6 separate regions of the Homo sapiens genome follow, and all the other regions are linked to region 1. Evidence: fine-mapped expression QTL. A gene starts in region 1. Each other region holds a variant in brackets. All regions are shown on one strand. Distances are from middle to middle.

The links. PIP is the estimated chance that this variant, and not a neighbour inherited with it, causes the effect. A credible set is the group of variants that fine-mapping cannot tell apart.
Region 2: its variant is the best candidate, but not a certain one, in a credible set for the expression of HEXA in aorta (GTEx, PIP 0.67).
Region 3: its variant is the best candidate, but not a certain one, in a credible set for the expression of HEXA in T cells (TOPMed, PIP 0.84).
Region 4: its variant is the best candidate, but not a certain one, in a credible set for the expression of HEXA in blood mononuclear cells (TOPMed, PIP 0.67).
Region 5: its variant is the best candidate, but not a certain one, in a credible set for the expression of HEXA in unexposed skin (GTEx, PIP 0.61).
Region 6: its variant is the best candidate, but not a certain one, in a credible set for the expression of HEXA in subcutaneous fat (GTEx, PIP 0.83).

The regions. Positions count from the first base shown.
Region 1 is chr15:72,373,894-72,377,981 of GRCh38, reverse strand. It overlaps HEXA (hexosaminidase subunit alpha), which reads left to right and starts at 1,968. Exons shown (of 14, transcript NM_000520.6): 1 at 1,968-2,262. The coding sequence starts at 2,010. It overlaps HEXA-AS1 (HEXA antisense RNA 1), which reads right to left and starts at 1,869. Exons shown (of 1, transcript NR_027262.1): 1 at 1-1,869. RefSeq lists enhancers at 1,209-1,258, 1,589-1,728, 1,620-2,176, 2,177-2,732.
Region 2 is chr15:72,301,074-72,305,161 of GRCh38, reverse strand. It overlaps CELF6 (CUGBP Elav-like family member 6), which reads left to right. Exons shown (of 13, transcript NM_052840.5): 3 at 368-416. Among named protein-coding and RNA genes, the nearest start is that of CELF6, 17 kb to the left of the region's middle. The variant A/G (reference allele first, on the strand shown) is at 1,615.
Region 3 is chr15:72,404,142-72,408,229 of GRCh38, reverse strand. TMEM202 (transmembrane protein 202) reads right to left here. Exons shown (of 5, transcript NM_001080462.3): 3 at 1,479-1,628; 4 at 1,013-1,144; 5 at 1-539. The coding sequence ends at 337. It overlaps TMEM202-AS1 (TMEM202 antisense RNA 1), which reads left to right. Exons shown (of 4, transcript NR_135678.1): 4 at 385-451. Among named protein-coding and RNA genes, the nearest start is that of TMEM202, 7.9 kb to the right of the region's middle. The variant C/T (reference allele first, on the strand shown) is at 2,519.
Region 4 is chr15:72,331,056-72,335,143 of GRCh38, reverse strand. No RefSeq gene overlaps it. Among named protein-coding and RNA genes, the nearest start is that of CELF6, 13 kb to the right of the region's middle. The variant C/G (reference allele first, on the strand shown) is at 2,217.
Region 5 is chr15:72,412,608-72,416,695 of GRCh38, reverse strand. The region is part of intron 2 of TMEM202-AS1 (TMEM202 antisense RNA 1); the gene reads left to right. Among named protein-coding and RNA genes, the nearest start is that of TMEM202, 16 kb to the right of the region's middle. The variant G/A (reference allele first, on the strand shown) is at 2,337.
Region 6 is chr15:72,289,404-72,293,491 of GRCh38, reverse strand. It overlaps CELF6 (CUGBP Elav-like family member 6), which reads left to right. Exons shown (of 13, transcript NM_052840.5): 4 at 3,237-3,365; 5 at 3,474-3,553; 6 at 3,722-3,865; 7 at 3,985-4,088. Among named protein-coding and RNA genes, the nearest start is that of PARP6, 19 kb to the right of the region's middle. The variant T/C (reference allele first, on the strand shown) is at 1,637.

The sequences.
Region 1 (4,088 bases):
AGTAATAATTAAATAACTGAATCCCTGTAATCCACCATGCTCAGCCCCATTAGTAATTTTTATAGCGTCTTTATTTGGATCTAGCTCTTTCATCTTGTGTAACTCTTTTAAGTAAATGACTCCTCCCTTCTGGTACAGGTTGAATATCCATAAAAGGGTGCCTTGGCATGTGCTCAGTCCTGAAATTCTACTTTGATCTACTGCTCTCATCTTTGAAACTGCTCTAAACACTCCCCCAAATTATTGATCCTGTGGGCCTGATTATGAACTTGGCTCTTCTGACAATACTTCTCAAATCCTGTACCTTTGGTAACATCTCTCCTGACTGGCAGAGTACCCAGACACTTAATTAATGCTGATGAAAATTAAGATTTAAGCAAAGAAGAAATTGGTGTAAGAATGCAAGCCTTAGGATCTGAAACTTGATGACTGTGGGATCTAATTTCTGCTTCTTTTGCTACAAGCTCTGTTTTTGAATAATCAACTTTCAAAGACAAATTGCTTGATGAATCTCTGTATTGTCAGAATGTTTCTTTGATTTCCCATCAAAGCCATGTATGTGTAACTAGTAATTAGGTACCTACGACCTGAATATAAATTATCATTATTTCAGTAGCCCTTTATTTGTTTTTGAGAAAGGGTTTCACTATACTGCCCAGGCTAAACTTGAACTCCTTGGTTCAAGTGATCCTGCCGCCTCAGCCTCCTGAATAGCTGGGAGTAGCTGGGACTACAGGGATGTGTTATCATGCCCAGTGAAAGCCCTTTATTTTTAAAAGTTCATTTTCCTGATCTTTACATGTATTTTAATACTAAAATTAAATTTAAAAATTTTAAAAAGTACCTACTAACCAAATAATGCCACCCAATAACAATAGCATTATTTGTATTATGTTCTGGTAATATAGTGGTGAACAAGGAAGACAGGGTCTCTGATAACTGTGGAATTCTCCTTGATCACTTCTCAAGCCTCTCTTCCGGATACTATTTCTTGGATCTACAGCTGTCTTCCTTCCCCACTTCTGTAGTTCAGTCTCTCATTATTCTCTACCTCCAATAAAAAGGGGCCTCCTAACTGGTTTCTTATGCAACTACTCAACATGGTATTTCTAAAATGCAGATCTTTCGGGATGATTTTCAATTGCTCAGAGAATAAATTCCTTGACTTTCTACGTAAGGCCCTGCAGGACCAGGCCCCTGTCATTATCTCTGAGCACTCTCCATCTTGCACCCAAAGCCCCAGCAATATCTTACTGCTTTCAGTAAATACACACCGGGCTATGTGGGGTTTTGTCTGGGGAAAGGGGATGTGAGTTGTAACTAAGAGATTTATAGTCAATCTTGAAGGGAAGAGCTCATATTGGAGGCAATGGAATGCCTCAAGCTGGCTCTGAAAGTACACATTTTTTCCAGTCATAAGTAGATCACATTTGTGTGATCTTGTGATCCTCTCTCTAGCAGAGCCGTGCAGACTACCTACTTCCGGCCCTTTCTTGCCCCACGAAATTTCACATCACAACGACTTGTGGTTTTAATCCTCCGTTTTTCTGCTTCTGAAGTTACTTCAGCCTGGCAAGTCCTTTACCTCCCCGTAGGCCTGGCGAGCTGCATCACAACATTCAAGATTCACCCTAGAGCCATCTGGGAAACTTTCTTCTCCAGGTCGCCCTGCGTCCTCGCCTCCCCACCCCGTTCTTCTCGAGTCGGGTGAGCTGTCTAGTTCCATCACGGCCGGCACGGCCGCAGGGGTGGCCGGTTATTTACTGCTCTACTGGGCCCGTGAACAGTCTGGCGAGCCGAGCAGTTGCCGACGCCCGGCACAATCCGCTGCACGTAGCAGGAGCCTCAGGTCCAGGCCGGAAGTGAAAGGGCAGGGTGTGGGTCCTCCTGGGGTCGCAGGCGCAGAGCCGCCTCTGGTCACGTGATTCGCCGATAAGTCACGGGGGCGCCGCTCACCTGACCAGGGTCTCACGTGGCCAGCCCCCTCCGAGAGGGGAGACCAGCGGGCCATGACAAGCTCCAGGCTTTGGTTTTCGCTGCTGCTGGCGGCAGCGTTCGCAGGACGGGCGACGGCCCTCTGGCCCTGGCCTCAGAACTTCCAAACCTCCGACCAGCGCTACGTCCTTTACCCGAACAACTTTCAATTCCAGTACGATGTCAGCTCGGCCGCGCAGCCCGGCTGCTCAGTCCTCGACGAGGCCTTCCAGCGCTATCGTGACCTGCTTTTCGGTTCCGGGTCTTGGCCCCGTCCTTACCTCACAGGTGAGTCGGACTTGTCCCGCCCTGTTCCTGGGCCCTGAGAGTGCCTGCCTGGGGACAGTTCCCCCAGGGCTCCAGAGACGCCCTATGGGCTTTTGTCCAGCCCTCTGATCACAGGCACTCCACTTCCTCCTCGAGCTGCATTAGGTTTTCATCCAAAGATAACTACTATAGGACTACGGTTCAATCAGGAGATTAATTTATGGAAAATACTGTGCCAGCAGAAATCTAAGGTGATCCTTCTGACCGTGTTCAAGCTAGCCAGGGTCCTAGTGAGACTGTGAGCAAGGGCTGAGTAGAGACCAGAGAAAACACTCAAAATTGGGGAGACATAATACAAGAACTATGCAAAGTTACATACAAGTTTCTGGCACATAGAATGTTTGGCGGGCGGATCACGAGGTCAGGAGTTCGAGACCAGCCCGGCCAACATAGTGAAACCCCGTCTCTACCAAAAACACAAAAAATTAGCCAGGCGTGGCGGCGCGCGCCTGTAGTCCCAGCTACTCGGGATGCTGAGGCAGGAGAATCGGTTGAACCCATGAGGTGGAGGTTGTGGTGAGCTGAGATCGCGCCACTGCACTCCAGCCTGGGCAACAGAGCAAGACTCCCTCTCAGAAAAACAACCCCCCCCCCCAAACAAAACAAAACAAAACAAAAAAAGTGTAAATTGTGAAAGAAATCATAGAACATAAGGAAGTGAGTTTCCAGCGGCCACTTGGAATGGGATGGTAGATGTAATTAGCCGGGACTGAAAAGAGGGTATTCCAGGCAGGAAGAAGGGCTTGAGCAGAGGCACAAAGAATTATGATTGAGTTCAAAGTTCAGGTCTAGTGGATGTGATGAGTGGGGGCTGGGGATTGAGGAGGGATGAGGGTGGGGAAAATGTGGGGTTGAAGAGTCAAGAGCGCTTTAGACATTGGTTTCACATAAAATGGAAGGGGCTAACAGTTTTCTTTTAGGCAGCTATGTAATCAGTACTGAAAATTGTATTTGAGGATAATTATTCCACAGCACATTTGTAAGTCGAGCCAACAATGTAAAGGAATACAATTCTGCTGCATGGGTTCAAAATTTAGAAGTTTCTTGATAATCTGGAATCTAGCTCTTTGGTTATATTGTATAGATGTTATGGGGGTGGGAGCCACATTTACGGTTAAGTCTTGTAGTAATATTTTATATGATGTTTCAAGTGTGTTTAAATTACTTTCACAAAAGTTATCATTTGATATATAGAATTAAAAGCATTTAATTATACAGATGACCCTTAGAGAGTGACATTTGATTTGGGGAAAGAAACACAATCTCAGCATCAGGGTAGTCCTTAACTGGTAAAATGCATTAAGCTGGAGAGGATAAGAGGCCTGCTGTTGAGTGTGGTAGATCACATTTTCCTCTGAATCCTTCATGACAAATAATAGAGTGCCTTACCCAAGATTGGCACTCAGAATATGTTGATTTTGGTTTAGAAGAGTTTGAGCCTGGTTTATGGAAAAAAAAATCCGTCTAACTGGTATATGTCAATCCCAGTGCTGGGCACTCTGAAGGTTACAAGAAAAGTCTTAAGACCTAGGCCTAGGCTCTATAGTTCAATTGCGAAAATATGAAACAGAGGGAGGTACACAGTGAATTATAAGATTCTCAAAAGCTTTATAGGTTGTTTCCTACTATTGTATACATGAGAATAATTCCTTTCCTTTTTTTTTTTTTTTTTGAGACGGAGTCTCGCTTTATCACTCAGCCTACACTGAGGCTGAGTGCAGTGATACGATCTTGGCTCACTGCAGCCTCCGCCTCCTGGGTTCAAGCGATTCTCCTGCCTCAGCCTC
Region 2 (4,088 bases), 73 kb after region 1:
ATCAATTCTACCCTCCTTCCCAATCCTCTCATGCAAAGCCTTTAAGTAAGTCCAGAAGCCAAAGGGACAGGCCTCACATAGCCCCTGCCCAGAGCCCCAGGCAGAAAAGTCTCTTTAGCCGCTTCATTCCACCTTGTGCTTGCCACTAAGTTCCTGTCACCCATCCCTGCCAGTTTCAGCACCTTCTAAATTCCTGGGTTTAAGGAAGGAATCTTGGAGAAAATCTGTAATCCCAGTTTGGAAGTGGTAGAGTGCAGAGTTCAAAGGGGCTAGGGCTCAGATCCTGAGGAGTCCAGGGTTCGAGAAGCTGGGGGCTCCAGGACCAGGCAGTCACGCTGAATGGGTGTGTTGGTCCGATGTCTTTCAGATGAATCGTCCGATCCAAGTGAAGCCAGCTGCCAGTGAGGGCCGAGGAGGTAACTTCCCTGTCTGACCAACCTCAGGCTGCAACCCGTGTAAGGGAGGGTGGGCCCACACCTGGAGTCTGTCCTACCCATTTAGTATGAGAGCCTCCCTGGGTCAAGGGGACAGGTGGGGCTCAGAGTTGCTGAGCCCCAGAAATAGCTCAGCCTTCCCTGCTCAGACTGAGCAGGGCTGGGGTTCTGGGGAGCCCAGGCCCAGAAGAGGCAAGAAGGGCCTAAACAGATGCCAGTGATAGAGAAAGGGGGTTCTTGCCACTTACCCTTGGAGAGAGATCATTCCTGTTTTGCCACATGGAACTTTCAGGGTTTCGTTGTTGTTGTTGTTTTTAAGAATCAGGTGGGGGTTATTCTCCTTCTCCATATCCTTCTGATATCAGAAAACACAGTCCGTTTCGGATTGAGGCCATTCCTTCATTGTAATTGCCTAGCTGCTCATGGTAAAAGATAAGGCTGGTACGACAGACTTTATGGGCCATAGTAAGTCCTCTATGCTGAGGACCATGGAAAGCTCTGATAGCTACACTGTTTCCTGGTAGAGAAAAAACAGAGCTCCTTAAGAACAGGAGGTGGGCTGAGCACGGTGGCTCATACCTATAATCCCAGCACTTTGGGAGGCTGAGGTGGGTGGATCATTTGAGGCCAAGAGTTCGAGACCAGCCTGGGCAACATGGTGAAACCTCGTCTCTACTACAAATAGATAAATTAGCCGGGTGTGGTAGTGGATGCCTGTAATCCCAGCTACTCGGAGGCTGAGGCAGGGAGGCTGAGGCAGGAGAATCGCTTAAACCTGGGAGGCGGAGGTTGTAGTGAGCCGAGATCACGCCATTGCACTCCAGCCTGGGCAACAGAGCATGACTCTGTATCAAAACAAAAACAAAAACAAAAACAAAACCACATAGGACGGTTAGAGAGCCTGTGCTTTCTTCTAACCAGCTGGGTTCTGGCCAGCTTCCAAGCTGTAAAGGCAAGGCTGGATTCTGGTGTCAGTTCTTGGTGTTTTTCTCACCCTTGCATCTTAGATCCTTCCAGTGTATCAGCCTATAGCCCTCCCTGATGTCTGCTGACTCTTTATCTTGGGTAAGACTCTCTTCCTGTCTAACCCAAGATCAGCCATGGCTTTGCTAGCTGAAAGAAGCTGCCCGAGTTCAGGAACAGAATGGAACCCAATTGATATAAACATGTATTGAGTCCT[A/G]CTAATTCTGTACCCCTCTCAGACTTCATGCTCAGTCTGAGAACCCACACACAGAGTTCTGGTGACTTTGTGGTTCCACTGTGAAGTTCGTTCCTCCAAGAAATACTTCCATTATCCTTTTAGATTCTCTGACCTCTGGTCTCTGATTCTTGATTTCTGGTCAAAATGTTATCACCTTCACCTTGTCTTGGAGAGATATTTCCAAGTTTCCTCCTCCATCCACACACACATTCTCCTTTCCCTTTTTATTCTTTCCAGTCAGGTTTTTGAGATGTTCCAGGCTGCATGCAAAACTTCATGTTCATGTAACCCAAGAATTTCTGCCTCTTGGGAAACTCTTTTATGCATCAAGGCCATTGTTGGCCAACTACTAAGCCCTGCCCACAACCATGAGCCAGTCCCACAGCTGAGAAGCCAACTAAGAGTATGTGAGTGAGCTGTGAAGCAGACAGGTTCAACCACACAACCAACATCTTCTGAGCAACTTACTCCACAGCAGGAATACAGATGTGAGCAAAGCAGACCTGGTACCTGGCCTCATGAAGCACGGATGCTATGAGAGGATATGGACAAGTAAACAAGGGAACACAATTCAGTGTGATCACTGCTTTCAAGGGGAAGTCCAGGGGAATTGTGGGGACACAAACAAGGGGCACCTAACCCAGTCTGGAAGATCAAAGTGGGTTCCCAGAGGAGTAATATTTAAGCTGAGACCTCAAGGATGAATAGGAAGTAGTCAGAGAAAAGAGGAGAGAGGGAGCAAGCATGTTGGGCAGAGGAAGAGCATGTCCGCAGGCCCCAGAGCTCAGAAGAACGTGGTGCAATTTGGAGTCTTGCTCAGGAACTAAGTCCACAATGCTAGGGCACTCCTGCTGTATGGAGTCCACTACATCTTGTCAGTGTTTGGGCAGCCGCACAAAGGGGGCCTCCATGCTGATAGTGCTTTTGCTTGGCCTGGTTGATGTGTTCTGGTGGTCTGGGCTCTAAGCAATGACATCAGCTTGAGTTGTAGAATTTTCTTTCCACATTTTTGTATAAACTTTGCAGGTGTCACATCATTAAAAAATTCTGTACATATGGCATTTCCACCTATACACCTGTTTAAAAGAGCAGGAAAAGCAAATCTAGCTGAAAAAGAGTATTGCCTGGCAGCAGAACTCATAATTTAGCAGTTGTGTTACACAGATATTTCTGGACAAGTGGTGGCTCTCAAGAAGCATACACTCCAAATGCATCCATGAATAATCCTTCTTGCAGGTTTGGATGACCAGATCTCTCAATTCCTCCCTGCTCCCTACTATATATTCAGGAGAGAAAAGGCCTATGTATCCAGTCTTGCAGAACAGTTGGGCCTTTACAATTTATAAGTATTTTAATACTAACAGATCTGTGTTAGATAATCATTACTAATCAAAATGTATTTTCTTCAGTGCTATCATATATCTCTTCTAAAGTGAGTTCAACCCTCTGCTGAATTTTAACACAACCTAATGCTTTAGAAAGTCAACTTTTTGGCTGGGAGCAGTGGCTCACGCCTGTAATCCCAGCACTTTGGGAGGCCGAGGCGGGCGGATCACGAGGTCAGGAGATCAAGACCATCTTGGTTAACACGGTGAAACCCCATCTCTACTAAAAATACAATAATTAGCCAGGTGTGGTGGCGGGCGCATGTAGTCCCATCTACTCAGGAGGCTGAGACGGGAGAACGGCGTGAACCCAGCAGGCGGAGCTTGCAGTGAGCCAAGATCGCACCACTGCACTCCAGCCTGGGTGACAGAGTGAGACTCTGTCTCAAAAAAAAAAAAAAAAAAAATCAACTTTTTAAAATGGTATTGGATTTTGCTTTTAAAATGTAACATTTGGCAACAACGTGGAACAGCGTGTCCCATTTAAGTCTTATATCTGTGACCTCAAACATTCTATAAACTGTCAGAGTCAATGGTCACACACACCTGACCAGATATATTTACGCCAGTAAGCCTGTGTCTTCTAAAATTATTCCTGAAATTAAATCCCTTAGTTTACCATTGGTTAATAATGGTTTCTTTATCCGATAAGAGTACTGATGTCAATGAAAACAATCTAAGGGATATCAAGGCCAACATATTCTTCCAAAACCTTCCAGTTTCTTCTGGAAGGGATTATGCATGATTTTTCTTCCCATCAAGTAGGGATCATCAGCTCAAATACTACAGGAGCCCAGGTAGGTAACCTTAAATGGATGAGACTCCCATGTTTTAATAAAATAATTTACAGCTGGGCATGTGGGCTGGTGCCTGTAATCCCAGCACTTTAGGAGGCCAAGGCGGGAGGATGACTTGAGCTCACAAGTTTGAGACCAGCCTGGGCAACATGGTGAAGCCCTGTCTCTGCAAAAAATATGCAAAAATTAGCTGGGTGTGGTGGCATACATCTTTAGTCCCAGCTACCCAGCTACTCGGGAGGCTGAGGCAGGAGGATCACTTGAGCCCAGG
Region 3 (4,088 bases), 30 kb before region 1:
TTAACATTCTTCTCCACGGGCCATTCTGGTCCATGAGATCCCTGATACCCAAAGAGGTCTCTGGTCTACACACTGCATCTTTCACTAGTTTCTTTCATTCATGACTCTAAACATTGTTGTTTTCTTTTAGAAATGTTTTTCTTAAGTGAGTTATTTACTTTATGACTATCATATATATTTTGGATCCAATGCACGCAAAAGACATTTCATCAGCTTTAATGCTGTCTCCTCAAGTAATATGGACATGATATTAGGAGAGTTTCCCAGAATTTATGTGACCATTCCCAACTCAGCTTCTCCCCTGCTTTTAAGACAAGCTATAGTTAGGTTTTCCTATCACCACCACAGTCCTGACTTTGGTAAATTTTTCTCTCTCACACTTAGAGATTCCATCTCAGACCTTGGCCCTTCATCTTTAGCAGGTGATACTGTAGTCACCGGACCAACCCCCAGCCTTGATCTCTCTGTTGGAATCACAGTGACGTTTTCATCACAGGCAGGCGATCTGGAAGTTAAGTAGTTGAGAAGAGAGATGATCCCTACGGGAAGGGAATAATTTGAGGTGAGGTTCAATAGGCAATGGTCTTTTGGCTTTTAAAATTCTTATGCATCCTTTAATAACCAGTTCAAGAGGCATCTTTTCAGTGAACCCCTCTCTCCCCCAGTGGAGTTACTTTACCCTCCTGTGCTCTAATTGCATTATAATATTTCTCAGACTGATTAGGACAAAGCTTGAACCTCCTGGATTCAGATCATAGTTCCACTATTTTCTGTGTGGTCTTGGGCAAGTTACTCAACTTGTCCATGCCTCACTTTGTGATAGAGCAGGTTACTAATGCTAGGTTTTCAGACTCTAAAATCCACCCTTTCTTCATTATGCCCCCCTGACTCTCCAAGTATCAGTGTTCTGAAAAGGAACAGTCAGTGCTTCTATTTCTCCTGGATTATACCTCCCTTTCCAGAAGCGATTTCCCTATCCATCCTTCTAGCATAGAGCAGGGAAGTGACTCACCAGCAAACATGTAAAAGATGTCACTGCACCAGTTAAGATAATAGGTCCATAGGAGATCTGACTCCATGGCATCCCTAGTATGCCAGTGAACCTGTGCCACAAACAGGTTGAGGCAGAGGAGCAAGCAGGTAGCTAGGACCAGAAGGAAAGATGTCACAACCCATCAGCATCTTCAGTCTGTCTTCCCCGCCACCCCCAGCTCTTTGGCCTCCAGAGGCCATATGTATAGCGAGGATCAAAAAGATAAAAACCTGGGGACTGACCAAGATGAGAGAAAGGCTCTATACCCTGGTAAAGTCAGCTAAGGTGTGTTCTATATAATTAGATAAGGCAGATAGCTGGCAAGTTGGTGTGATACTGAAGAAGAGCAAAGAGATAAGAAAAAGAGTATGAGAGTTCCACAGAGAAAATTTGTTACCTTGACTATTTTACCATGGTAAAATACCCTGCCAGTCTAGGTCTGTACCTGAGATGAAGCTGAGCATGGATACCTTCAGATCCAAGTTGGTGGTCATGCTTCCTCGATTAAGGATCCAAGAGCTGAAGAGCCAGCCAAGGCCAGTAAGTATGGTAAAGACAGAGATGAGAAAGAAGGCCCTGGAATATTGGAGATAATCTGCATGAAGAAGAGGAAAGGAAGACCGTGGTTAGTCCAGTGAGGGACCTTCCCTTAAAAAGGCCAGATAGAGTCTTAGAGAAGGATTTAAGAACAAAGGATGATGGAGCAGAGCTTGCTACATGACATCCTTTTTGCTTGGAATTTCTTTACTATGATTGTTAAACTAAAGATAATATACAAATACTTCTGCATGCATTGATTTAGATATAAACTAGCTTATAAAAGGTGTCACCAATGACAAAACAGATTAAACCTTTTTCTTGTTTCTAATTCTAATTCTAAAAGTAGTAAGTAATACGCGTTCAACATAAGTATTCAAAAGACTACAAAAGAACAAAGAAGCAGGAAAAAAATTAGCCACAATTTGACTACCTAGAGGCAACCATTGTTAATATTTTATTTTTCTACCCTCTGTACATAGTAGATATGATACTAGATATCATGTGGGTTTTTTTCTTAAGAATATATGATGTGATTTTCCCCATTATCTGTTGTAAATATTATTTTCGATGGCTACAAAATATTCTATCATATTAATATACTTTGCTTAATGACTTACCCATTGTTTAGTTCCATTGGTTTTTCACTTCCAGCTCTATCTGGCATGTACAGGCCTTGTCAGCCTATGACTACAAAATGAAGTCACATTTACTTTATTTATCTATTTCTTTATTTTATTATTATTTTTTTGAGACAGAGTCTCATTCTGTCACCCAGAGTAGCTGAGATTACAGGCACATGCCACCATGCCTGGCTAATTTTTGTTTTTTTTTAGTAGAAACAGGGTTTCACCATGTTGGCCAGGCTGGTCTTGAACTCCTGACCTCAGGTGATCTGCCCGCCTTGACCTCTCAAAGTGCTGGGATTAAAGGCGTGAGCCACCTCGC[C/T]CAGCCTCATTTACTTTAATTCCATATTATGATGATTTCAAGCCCCAATTTACCAAGCTGCAGGAACTTACCACAAAGTGTTTCCCTCCACTTTTTTTTTATTCTGAGAGTCCCCCAAAGTCCTATCTCATATTTGTTCAAGTTGCTCTTATCCAAGTGCCACACCTCTCCTTCTTCCATCTTTGGCTCTAGGTGTCTTCTCTTTGGCTCTGCCACTGCGGACTGGATGTTGGTAAGAGAGCAGCGGGGATATGCTCAACCTTACTTTTTGCTACCACATCCCTAAGATGGAACAGGTTCTTCGACTTCCCCATCAATATTTTACTGAAGATTTAGAAGATAACTTATAATTACAAGTAGCTATAGCTTTTCTGAGCTACCAGACACCCAGGAATATCTTCAGTATCCCTTATAAGGTGCCTCCTTATCTAGCTTCTTTTTCTGTCCCAGTGTAGCAGGGACCAGCTCACCCCCACCCCAGTGGTTAGAAAGTTCTCTAACCACTTATATGCCTAAGAATCCAAGTCCAGCTTCTGAGTAACCCAGAGAGCAGAAATTATGTATCAAGCTTATCCAGTCTAATATCTGCCTCCTTGTTTCATTTTGTTCTCCAGAACCTGCCACTTACTAATATGATGAATTGCAGGAATTTCCATTCAGAGAAACCACACCCCTATCCACAGATGTTAAGTTGCTCTGTAGCCCTAACAAGTGAGCCACATTAAAACATAGTAATTCACAAGCTGCACATTTTCTGAAGACTGGGTTATGCAGAATTAGCAGTATATGTAGCCAGCCAGAACATAAGCCCAGATTGAGCTGTATGAAGCCCAGGGTAACAGGCAGCCTTTGTGGTATTTAGTCCACAATCCTCCATGAGCTCTAGCAGCCCTTGTCTATAGCCCTTGACTATTGTCTGTATAGCCCTCTGACTATAGCTACCTGGACTAAGCATGGGAACCTGACCCATCCTGGGACAATTTTATTCTTATGCTTAGAAATTGGATTTCCTCTTTTGCTTGCTTGAACTGAGAAGATGTAAAGTTTGACCGGGGTATCACCTTTTAGGCACTTACACACTAATAAACAGGAAAAACTGAGCTGTAGAGATAAAACAAAACATAAACAAAGCTGAATGACAAAGTGACTGTAGAAAATCTGAGTGACTGGCTGGCTTGATTTTCTTTATCTGAGATCCCAGCCTCCTCTGGAATCCCCTAAGGTCCAGCGAACTTCCTGCCTTGGGAGTCTATGTTATTCTTCTGAGCCACATTTTTTTTTCTTTATCTTTTTCTTTGAGACGGGGTCTCAGTCTGTAACCCAGGCTGGAGTGCAGTAGCATGATCTCTACTCACTGCAGCCTCCAACTCCCAGACTCAAGCTATCCTCCCACCTCAGCCTCTTGAGTAGCTGGGACCACAGGTGCACACTACCACACCTGGCTAATTTTTTGTATTTTTGGTGGAGGTGGGGTTTCACCATGTTGCCCAGGCTGGTCTCAAACTCCTGAGCTCAAGCGATCTGCCCACCTCAGACTCCCAAAGTGCTGGGATTACAGTCTTGAGCCACC
Region 4 (4,088 bases), 43 kb after region 1:
GAGCCCCTAGATGCCTTCCAGAAACAAATGTATATCCATTCTGTAGAAGGAAAACGTACCCCTAGACCTCCAATTATTTCTAAAAATATTTTTCAAACACAATGCCTATCATATAATCAGAAATAACCAGGCACATGAAGAGAATAATAAGGGAGTAATAACAATCAAGAATTTTACAAAATTAATAACAGGCAACAAACCACAGATCCAAGAGTCTCAGATAGCACCAAGCAGGATAAATGCCAAGTAATAATCTATATCTATAGATTATTATATTCAAACTGCAGAAAATCGAAGACAAAATCTTGAAAGGAGCCAGAGAAAAATAACACCTGCCTATAGGGGAACAAGGATAAGGATTACATTGGCCTTCTCTTCAGAAAACATGCAAGCAAGAAGAGAGTGAAGTGAAATATGTAAGAAAGAAAAAAAGGGGGGATAAACCCACCAGCCTAGAATTCTGTTTCTAGCAAAATTATCCATCAGAAGTGAAGAAGAAATAGATTTTCTCAGACAAAGAAGACTTGAGAAAATTTATCACCAGTAGATCTGCCTTGCAAGAAAATTAAAGAGGTTCTTTGAAGAGAGAGAAAATGATCTAGGGGCTATATGAAAAAAACTTGGGGCTATAGGAAGAAAGGAGGAGCATTAGAGAAGGAGTAAATGAAGATAAAACAAAACATTTTATTTTTCTTAATCTGAAGTGATGTAACAAATAGCAGTTTGTTCGAAATAATAATACCAGCAATGTATTCAGTGATTACCTTATGAATAAGTGAAATACATGACAACAATGTTATAAAGAATGAGGCTGGGCGTGGTGGCTTATGCCTATAATCCCAGCACTTTGGGAGGCTGAGGTGGGCAGATCATAAGGTCAAGAGTTCAAAACCATCCTGGCCAACATGGTGAAACCCCGTCTCTACTAAAAATACAAAAATTAGCTGGACATGGTGGCATGCGCCTGTAATCCCAGCTACTCAGGAGGCTGAGGCAGGAGAATCGCTTGAACCCAGGAAGCAGAGGTTGCAGTGAGCCAAAATCACACCATTGCACTCCAGCCTGGGTGACCTCTTGTCAAAAACAAAAACAAAAAAAAAAAGAATGGGAGAGAGGAATTGGTAATCTCAATGCTTTCGAAGAACAAGATGGGGAGGATTGCTTGAGGCCAAGAGTTCAAGACCAGCCTGGGCAACATAGCAAGACCTGTATTCTCTACAGAAAATAAAAATTAGCCCAGCTACTCAGGAGGCTGAGGCAGGAGGATTGCTTGAGCCTGGGAGGTAAGGCTGCAGTGAGCTATGATTGCACCACTGTGCTTTAGCCTGGGTGACAGAGAAAGACCCTGTCTCGAAAGAAAAAGGAATGAAAGAGAGAGAGAAAGAAAACAAGAGAAAAGGAGACTTGGATTACTTATAAATGTATATTGTGAAATTTAGGGCAGCAACTAAAAATTTTTTTAAAGAGAAGGATTGAGTGCAGTGGCTCACACCTGTAATCCCAGCACTTTGGGAAGCCAAGACAGGAGGATCACTTGAATCCAGGAGTTTGAGAGCAACTGGGACAACATAGTGAGACCCTGTCTCTACAAAAAAATTTTGAAAATTAGCCAGGCATGGTGTTGCAGGCTTGTAGTCCCAGCTACTTAAGAGGCTAAGGCAGGAGAATCTCTTGAGCCTGGGAGGTTGAGGCTACAGTGAGCCATGGTTGTGCCACTGTACTCCAGCCTGAGGGACAGAGTCAGACCCTATGCCCCCAAAAAAGTATAACTGCTATATTAACAGAAAAGAGAAAATGGAATTATATTAAATGATCAGTTAAAACCAAAGAAGACAAAAAAAGAAAGAAAAAAGAAATAGCAATGGCAATTTTATCAATGGTCTAAATACATGAATTTTTTAAAAAGGGCCAGGCTCAGTGGCTTGTGCCTGTAATTCCAGCACTTTGGGAGGCCAAGTTGGGGAGACTGCTTGAGCCCAGGAGTTCAAGACCAGCCTGGGCAACGTGACAAAACTGCATCTCTATAAAAAGTACAAAAAGCCGGTGTGGTGGTGCGTGCATGTAGTCCCAGCTACTCTGGAGGCTGAGGCAGAGGCAGGAAGATCACCTGACCCCAGGAGGTCGAGCCTGCAGTGAGTTGTGATTGTGCCACTGAACTCCAGCCTGGGTGACAGAGAGACCCTGACTCTAATAATAATAATAATTTAAAAAAAAGA[C/G]CCAACTGGTGTTGTCTGTAAGAAATCAACTTTAAATATAGACACAGATGGGTTAAAAGTAAAGGAATGGAGAAAGATGCATCATGCTAACACTAATCAAAAGAAGGCTGGAGGCTGGGCATGGTGGCCCAGCACTTTGGGAGGTCGAGGCGGGAGGATCACTTAAGGCCAGGAGTTTGAGACTAGCCTGGGCAATATAATGAGACCCCCCCATCTCTATGAAAGAAAAAATAAAGCTGTATTAGTTTCAGATGGAGTCAGCTTCAGAGCAAGGAAAATTATGAAGGATAAAGAGGGCCAGGTGTGATGGTTCATGCCTGTAACCCCTGTACTTTGGGAGGCCGAGGCAGGAGGATCACTTGAGACCAGCCTGGGCAACATGGTGAAATGCCATCTCTACAAAAAATACAAAAGTTAGCCAGGCGTGGTGGTATGTGCCTGTAGTCCCAGCTACTCAGAAGGGTGAGGCTAGAGGATCATTTGAGCCTGGGAGTTTGAGGCTGCAGTGAGCCATGATTGCAACAACACTGCACTTCAGCCTTGGTGACAGAGCAAGACCCTGTCTCAAAAACAAACAAAAAAAAAAAAAGAAAAAAAGGATAAAGAGAGGGCCATTACACAATGATAAAGAGATCAGTTCTTCAAGAAGACATAATCCTTTATGGGTATGCCCTAGTATCAAAATACATAAGAGAGAAAAAAAACTGATAGAACTGCAAAAAGAAATAAACAATCTGCTATTATAGTTGGAGTTTTTGACAGCCCTGTATTAGGAGTTAACAGATCCAGGAGGAAGATTGGTAGTGACATAGTTGAAGTGAACAGCAACATGAGTCAACTTGGTCTATATATTCATTTCAAGTTCACACGGAATATTCACCACGATAGACCACATTTTTGGGCATAAAACACTCCTTAACATATTTAAAGAGCTTGAAATCATACATTGTATGCCCCCAAATCACAAAAAAATTAAACAGAATTCAATAACAGAAATATAGCTAGAAAATAGTCAAATATTTAAAGATTAACCAATATACTTCTTTTCTTTTATTATTATTATTTTTTTTTTGGAGATAGAGTCTCACTCTGTCGCCCAGGCTGGAGTGCAGTGGTGCGATCTCAGCTCACTGCAACCTCCACCTCCCAGGTTTAAGCGATTCTCCTGCCTCAGTCTCCGGAGTAGCTTATTAACCAATACACTTCTGAATAATACATAGGCCAAAGAAAAACACTCAAAACCAGCCTAGGAAACATAGTGATACCCCATTTCTAAAAAAAATAAAATAAACAATAATAATAAATTAGCTGGGCGTGGCACACACTTGTGGTCCCAGCTACTCGGGAGGCTGAGGTGGGAGGATCACTTGAGTCCCAGGCAGTCAAGGCTGCAGTGAGCTATTGTGATGGTTAATATCAAGTGTCAATTTGATTGGATTGAAGGATGCAAAGTATTGTTCCTCCATATGTATGTCTGTGAGGATGTTGCCAAAGGAGATTAACAAGTCAGACCCATCCTCAATCCAGTGGTCACAATCTAATCAGCTGCCAGTGCAGCTGGAATAAAGCAGGCAGAAGAACGTGGAAGGACAGACTGGCTGAGTCTTCTGGTCTTCATCTTTCTCCTGTGCTGGATGCTTCCTGCCTTCAAACATCGGACTCCAAGTTTTTCAGCTATTGGACTCTTGGACTTAAGTGATTTGCCAGGGACTCTGGCCTTTGGCCACAGACTGAAGACTGCACTGTCAGCTTCCCTCTTTTGAAGTTTTGGGACTCAGACTGGCTTCTTGCTCCTTAGCTTGCAGATGGCCTATTGTAGGACTTCACCTTGTGATTGTTTGAGTCGATACTCCTTAATAAACTCCCTTTCAT
Region 5 (4,088 bases), 39 kb before region 1:
GTTCCTATTTCTCCACATCCTCTCCAGCACCTGTTGTTTCCTGACTTTTTAATGATCACCATTCTAACTGGTGTGAGATGGTATCTCATTGTGGTTTTGATTTGCATTTCTCTGATGGCCAGTGATGATGAGCATTTTTTCATGTGTCTGTTGGCTGCATAAATGTCTTCTTTTGAGACGTGTCTGTTCATATCCTTCGCCCACTTTTTGATGGGGTTGTTTGATTTTTTCTTGTAAATTTGTTTAAGTTCTTTGCGGATTCTGGATATTAGCCCTTTGTCAGATGGGTAGATTGCAAAAATTTTCTCCCATTCTGTAGGTTCCCTGTTCATTCTGATGGTAGTTTCTTTTGCTGTGCAGAAGCTCCTTAGTTTAATTAGATCCCATTTGTCAATTTTGGCTTTTGTTGCCATTGCTTTTGGTGTTTTAGACATGAAGCCCTTGCCCATGCCTATGTCCTGAATGGTATTGCCTAGGTTTTCTTCTAGGGTTTTTATGGGTTTAGGGCTAACATTTAAGTCTTTAATCCATCTTGAATTAATTTTTGTATAAGGTGTAAGGAAGGGATCCAGTTTCAGCTTTCTACATATGGCTAGTCAGTTTTCCCAGCACCATTTATTAAATAGGGAATCTTTTCCCCATTTCTTGTTTTTGTCAGGTTTGTCAAAGATTAGATGGTTGTAGATGTGTGGCATTATTTCTGAGGGCTCTGTTCTGTTCCATTGGTCTATATCTCTGTTTTGGTACCAGTACCATGCTGTTTTGGTTACTGTAGCCTTGTAATGTAGTTTGAAGTCAGGTAGCATGATGCCTCCATCTTTGTCCTTTTGGCTTAGGATTGTCTTGGCAATGCGGGCTCTTTTTTGGTTCCATATGAACTTTAAAGTAGTTTTTTCCAATTCTGTGAAGAAAGTCATTAGTAGCTTGATGGGGATGGCATTGAATCTATAAATTGCCTTGGGCAGTATGGCCATTTTCACGATATTGATTTTTCCTAGGACTCATGGATTTTTAAAAAAATTCAAAGTGTAATAATCTAGTACTTTCATTACTCTTTTTGATGCTTAGATTTCCTCTGGATCGGCCAGTGAAGGTCCCTAAAGTTTGCTTTTCACATATAGGCCTTTGATCTTTTGGAACTTAAAAACAAAAAGATCACAAAGCAGGGATGTAGTTTTATGTTTTTTTCCGTATTTAACCAGTTACATCAGCCCCATTAGGTGGACAGTCCATAGTTCCCTCATTCTGTTTTTTTTTTTTTAATGTTTCTTCTGTATTTCTAGGCTTTCTATTCTGTTCTGTTTATGTAATCATGTGCCAATACCACATTATCTATTTTTTTTTCTTTTTGAGAAGGAGGGAGAAACAGGGTGTCACTGTGTTGTTCAGGCTTGTTTTGAACTCCTGTCCTCAAGCGATCCTCCCACCTCAATCTCCCAAGTAGTTGGGATTATAGGTGTGAGCCACTGCACCTGACTTCCACAGTCTTAATTACAATAATTTGATAAGTCATCTTCACATCAGGTAATGTAAATGTCTCCATCCTTTTATTTTTCACAATTATCTTGGCCCTTTTGGGCCCTTTGCAAAAAGGACAGAATGAGCTGTCCTGAATTTGGGTACCTGACTCTTGTTCATTTTCCACAGAAAAAAAAATCTGTGAGATTTTTGTTGTGAATTGCATTGAATCCACAGGTTAATTTGGATATTTACCATCTTATAGATTCAAAATATTAAGCAGATATTGATAGTATTACAAGGAAAAAATTTAAAACGTGAAGCCATCATGGGAGACTTAACACAGAAAAACATAAAACAAAGAGTAGTAAAGATGGTGCGGTGTGGTGGCTCAGGCCTGTAATCCCAGCACTTTGGGAGGCCGAGGCAGGTGGATCACTTGAGGTCAGGGGTTCAAGACCAGCCTGGCCAACATGGTGAAACCCCGTCTCTACTAAAAATACAAAAATTAGCCAAGTGTGATGGTGAGTGCCTGTAATCCCAGCTACTCAGGAGGCTGAGGCAGGAGAATCACTTGAACCCGGGAGGCAGAGGCTGCAGGAAGCCAAGATCACGCCACTGCACTCCAGCCTGGGAGACAGAGCAAGACTCCATCTCAAAACAAACAAACAAAAACACCAAAGAGCAGTAAAGAAACAGAAGATTTAAACAATAAAATATGCTTGAGTAATGTATATGTAAATATGTATACCTACGTATATACTTTAGTTATGTCCTTTTCATGCTTTCACTCTTTTTTTTTTTTTTTTTTGCTTAATTAGGTTTACTTGTAGTTTGCCTTTCATTTAGTTTTTGTCCAAAGAAATAGATTTTAGTCT[G/A]TCATTTGAACCTAAGGTTTTTTCATATTTTTACAAAGTTTAGTTTAAAAATTTTCTTCCTTCTTTGGTCTTTTCTAGTTATTCTTTTACAGGTTCGTGAATTGCATGCATAACTCATTTATTTTAAACTATTTTTGTTGGTTGTTTTGTTTTTAATGCATCTATGGGTTTTGGTTATAGTAATTCTTTCATGGTTGTTTAGTTCTAAATATTTTATCATTTCCATTGTGATTTCCTTTTTACCCAATTTTTTTAGGGAGCATTATTTTGTCCTAAAAGATGTAGAGCTTTGTTTTTGTTTTTGTTTCTGTTTGTTTCTGTTTTGTTTTGTTTTGAAGAGTCTAGTTCTGTTACCCATGCTGGAGTGCAGTGACGTGATCTCAGCTCACTGCAACCTCTTCCTCCCAGGCTCAAGCAATTCTTGTGTCTCAGCCTCCCAAGTAGCTGGGACTACAGGCACCTGCCATTGCACCCAGCTATTTTTTTTATTATTATACTTTAAGTTCTAGGGTACATGTGCACAACATGCAGGTTTGTTACATATGTATTCATGTGCCATGTTGGTGTGCTGCACTCATTAACTCGTCATTTACATTAGGTATATCTCCTAATGCTATCCCTCCCCCCTCCCCACTCCCCCCACCCCACAACAGGCCCTGGAATGTGATGCTCCCCTTCCTGTGTCCAAGTGTTCTCATTGTTCAATTCCCACCTATGAGTGAGAACATGTGGTGTTTGGTTTTTGGTCCTTGCGATAGTTTGCTGAGAATGATGGTTTCCAGCTTCATCCATGTCCCTACGAAGGACATGAACTCATCATTTTTTATGGCTGCATAGTATTCCATAGTGTATATGTGCCACATTTTCTTAATCCAGTCTATCATTGTTGGACATTTGGGTTGGTTCCAAGTCTTTGCTATTGTGAATAGTGCCACAATAAACACACGTGTGCATGTGTCTTTATAGCAGCATGATTTATACTCCTTTGGGTATATACCCAGTAATGGGATGGCTGGGTCAAATGGTATTTCTAGTTCTACATCCCTGAGGAATCGCCACACTGACTTCCACAATGGTTGAAATAGTTTACAATCCCACCAACAGTGTAAAAGTGTTCCTATTTCTCCACATCCTCTCCAGCACCTGTTGTTTCCTGACTTTTTAATGATTGTCATTCTAACTGGTGTGAGATGGTATCTCGTTGTGGTTTTGATTTGCATTTCTCTGATGGCCAGTGATGATGAGCATTTTTTCATGTGTCTGTTGGCTGCATAAATGTCTTCTTTTGAGAAGTGTCTGTTCATATCCTTCGCCCACTTTTTGATGGGTTTGTTTGATTTTTTCTTGTAAATTTGTTTGAGTTCTTTGCGGATTCTGGATATTAGCCCTTTGTCAGATGGGTAGATTGCAAAAATTTTCTCCCATTCTGTAGGTTCCCTGTTCACTCTGATGGTAGTTTCTTTTGCTGTGAAGGAGCTCTTTAGTTTAATTAGATCCCATTTGTCAATTTTGGCTTTTGTTGCCATTGCTTTTGGCGTTTTAGACATGAAGTCCTTGCCCATGCCTATGTCCTGAATGGTAATGCCTAGGTTTTCTTCTAGGGTTTTTATGGTTTTAGGTCTAACATTTAAGTCTTTAATCCATATTGCATTAGATGGGGAAAAAACAGAGCAGAAAAACTGAAAATTCTAAAAATCAGAGCGCCTCTCCTCCTCCAAAGGAATGCAGCTCCTCACCAGCAACGGAACAAAG
Region 6 (4,088 bases), 84 kb after region 1:
TCAGACATTTCTGACTTGCCTCTTGTAGCGTCCGCTTTTTATCCAAATGATAGAATTTGATCTAGAGGAAACTGAATTATCTGGGCTACATCCCATCATCATCTCTCTTTGGAGGCAATCAATGATCAGCCATCAGAATGTTCAGATCTGTGGGTTTGCGGGGCTACTGTTAGGGGTCCAGCATGTACTTCTCTTTGGCCGGGTCTCTTAAGAAACTTATCCCACCATTTCTGGGTCACCTGAGGCTCATGACCACTGTGATCCAGCTTATCCTCCTGTCAAACACAATCAAGGTCCCTGTAAAGTGGCAAAGAGGATACCAGGATTTAAGGTGATACCTGGGAAACAGGAGCCTAGAGCCCACCCCATGGTAGATACTCATTTCCATTCCAAACTCTGTACATCCCAGTAGTCCAGATCCATAGGGTCAGTGCCCTGACAGGGAAATGGAAAAAAAAATTTTTTTAGTTGGAGTCTCACTCTGTCGCCCAGGCTGGAGTGCAGTGGTACAATCTCGGCTCACTGTAACCTCCGCCTCCTAGGTCCAAGCCATTTTCCCACCTCAGTCTCCTGAATAGCTGGGATTATAGGCATGTGCCACCACGCCTGGCTATTTTTATATTTTTAGTAGAGATGGGGTTTTACCATGTTGGCCAGGCTGGTCTCAAACCCCCGACCTCAAGTGATCAGCCCACCTTGGCCTCCCAAAGCACTGGGATTATAGGCGTGAGCCACTGCGCCCTGCTGAAAATTCTTAACTTGTGAGATTCTCACTGGAAAAGAGGATCGGAAAATTTCACCATCAGCAGAAAAAGCAACAAGAGGCAGAGCAGATGAAGGATCAGATCACCACTGTCAGTACAAACCTCTTTTCTGTCTTATGGGCTCTATCTCAGCCTGTGATGTCTCTCTTCCTACACAAGGCTACCTGGATTCTGGTCCATGTGGTATGATATCTTATTGGGGTGCCATCACCATTTTTCAGACCCTGCCCAATGACACAGCTCCACTACAAATTAGGGCATTGTGAAGCCCCCCTTGGGACTATGGAGGCCCTAGACTCTTCTCCAGCCTCTCCCAGGCCTTCTGCAGCCCAGAATAACTTAGAACAATGGCATGGTCTTTCGGGGTTTGATTCTCTGGCCAAATGAGCCCATTCTCCAATGTCAAGGCAAAGCCATCAGATTGGTTGAGAGACTCATGAAAGACCTTTCCTGTCTTCTCAGGCTCCTGAACAGGATGATCTCAGATCCCCCCTCAAACAACAGCTGGAACTCTGTTCTCTATCTTCTAGGTCAGTAATTTCAAAGGGCTTTCCTTGGAGCCCCTCTAGGGAGTATTAGGGGAGGATCAAGCAAGATGAACTCCACCCCTCCTTTTCTGGCTTCAGTCACAGCAGTTCTATTTTTCTCTTACATTTTGAGCTTCATCCTAATATTTATGTTAGAACAATGTATTCCACTGATTTTTCAAAAGGTTGGGAAACCAGTGATCTGTTCCAAGGGCACTATTCTGTGGCTGACACCCCCAGAAGCAAAGTACACCCACCAGGTTGTACTCTCACCACAGAAGGTCACTGGTGAGACCTTCTTTCCTCCATCAGAATTCCAGCCACAAGTCCATTATCCATCCCCTC[T/C]CCAAGGATCATCGGATGGTACCTCTCTGGACAGACGGCAGAATTTTGCTAAAACACATTTTGCCTGCCCCTTATGAACTGCAGCCCCTGCCCTCCACACAGACATAGCATCGTCAGACAGACAGACACTTCAGGATCCCCAAGGCAGCCTAGGCCAAACCCCACACCACCCGGGTGACATATGGACACACACATAGTCTTGTTGGAGATTTCTCCCCTGCTAACTTCGTTCAGTTTTGAACAGTCTGTTCTTCCTTCGCTGTCACCCAGGCTTCAGTCTATGACCCCCCACTAGCCTTGTTTTCCCTGCACTCAGAATCCAAGGACCCCCATCTGCCTAGCCAAGCTGGTCAAGGAGTAGAACCATTTAGGATGGGTTTTCCTGCACTCCAAGGTCTTGAAGATGAAGCCTGAAACCAGTTTCCTACCCACTCCTTCTCTCCCAACTTGTATTGTCCCCTACATGGTCAAGCCCCATCCCAAATTCAGAGATTTACCTTGGTGCAGAGAAGAGCCCCAGACTTTAACAGCAGGCTGGACCCCTCTACCCCACGCTCCCAGAGTGTTCCTGAGGCCTAACTTGCTGGATGTGCGGCAAAACCCTAGTTTCCAGCCCCAGCTCTCCAGCTTTCTTCGAGGGACACAGGCCCAGCTTGCAGCCCCTTTCCTGCATTTCTGCCACTCCCATAGAAAGGGTGGACACAGGGAGGAATCAGACTGGTTCTCTGGTGGCAATCCAGGTCTATAGGCAGAACTTGTTCTCTCATAGCATGAACATTTTGGGAGGCATCAGGGCAAGAGGACAGGGGAATCAGAGGGAAGGATACAGACAGGGCACTAGAAGCTTGCTGAAGGGACAGGGTGGTGGAGGTGGGAGTTAAGGAAAGGGGTCAGGGGTTCAGCAACTGTAGTAGGAAAAATGCTAATGTTGGAGGCTCAGGAAACCAAGGTCCTGCTCTCTGTAGGCCTTTGGGAGGGGCATCCAGGTTGGATGTGGTGCAGAGGGTAAGGATTCATCATGCCAGTGCTCAGTGCCTAAAGATGAGGCAGTAGGATGACAGGACTGTTTTCTGTGCTGTTTCTAAATCCAGAACCCTCCTTGATATTAGCAGGAAGGGGCATTGATTCTAGCCAGCACTATCAGGCTGACCAGCAAGGATGTACTTCTCTTCTCTGGACCCAGTCTGAATAGAAAGGCTTTCTCTGAGCACCCGCTTCCTTAATAGTACAGAAATGGTCCAAAACAGCGTTTCCCAACCTCTAAGAACAGAAAGGTCAAACATGTAAAACAATGCATATAGGGCTCTACCCAGCCAGAGATATCAAGACTGCATTACTCCCCACAAGAGCAGCCCTGAGCCTCTCTGGGTTTCCCCAGGACCCAGGTTTTCCTGATGGAAAGCTGAGCTGAGCTCCCTTCTCCAGATCCCTTCCCCAGATCCTGCCCCTCAATGAAAACCAACCCTGGAAGCCCAGGGCCTTCTCACTCCCTCTGCTTCCCAGAGTGAGACTGGTGAGCTGCCTTCCTAAGTTCCTCAGGCTACTCTCGGGGGTCTAGGAAGACTTGGGGTCCCCAGGTCATTCCTGGCTTTGTCCCCAGAGGACCGAAAGCTGTTTGTGGGGATGCTGGGCAAGCAGCAGGGTGAGGAGGACGTCAGACGCCTGTTCCAGCCCTTTGGCCACATCGAGGAGTGCACGGTCCTGCGGAGTCCTGACGGCACCAGTAAAGGTGACCTGAGCTGACCCCGGGATTTCCTGGTGACCCTTCCTCACTCTGGGCCACATAACTCTTTGGCCCCTGTGGCCTGAGCCACCCGCTCCCTCTGTCCTGCCCCAGGCTGTGCCTTTGTGAAGTTCGGGAGTCAAGGGGAAGCTCAGGCGGCCATCCGGGGTCTGCACGGCAGCCGGACCATGGCGGTGAGGGCGGGTTCCCTGGGCTGAGGGTGAGGCCAGTGGGGTGGGGACGGGCTTCTCCTCCCCGAGTGTGCTCGGTGCCCCGCGAAAGGACCTGATGGGAAAGGCGCTCGGCCCCGGGCCGGGGCCAGGGTCAGGACCGGTCACCACGGCCTCCCCTGCCCTGCCCAGGGCGCCTCGTCCAGCCTCGTGGTCAAGCTGGCGGACACCGACCGGGAGCGCGCGCTGCGGCGGATGCAGCAGATGGCCGGCCACCTGGGCGCCTTCCACCCCGCGCCACTGCCGCTAGGGGCCTGCGGCGCCTACACCACGGCGGTAGGTACCGGGCACCTGCGTGCGAGGGCGCGCAGGTGGGTGGGCCAGGCCTGGGGCTGAGAGCACGGGCAGCTGCCTGCCCCTTGGCCCTCCACTCTCGCCCATCTTTCCTCTCAAAGATCCTGCAGCACCAGGCGGCCCTGCTGGCGGCGGCACAGGGCCCAGGCCTAGGCCCGGTGGCGGCAGTGGCGGCCCAGATGCAACACGTGGCGGCCTTTAGCCT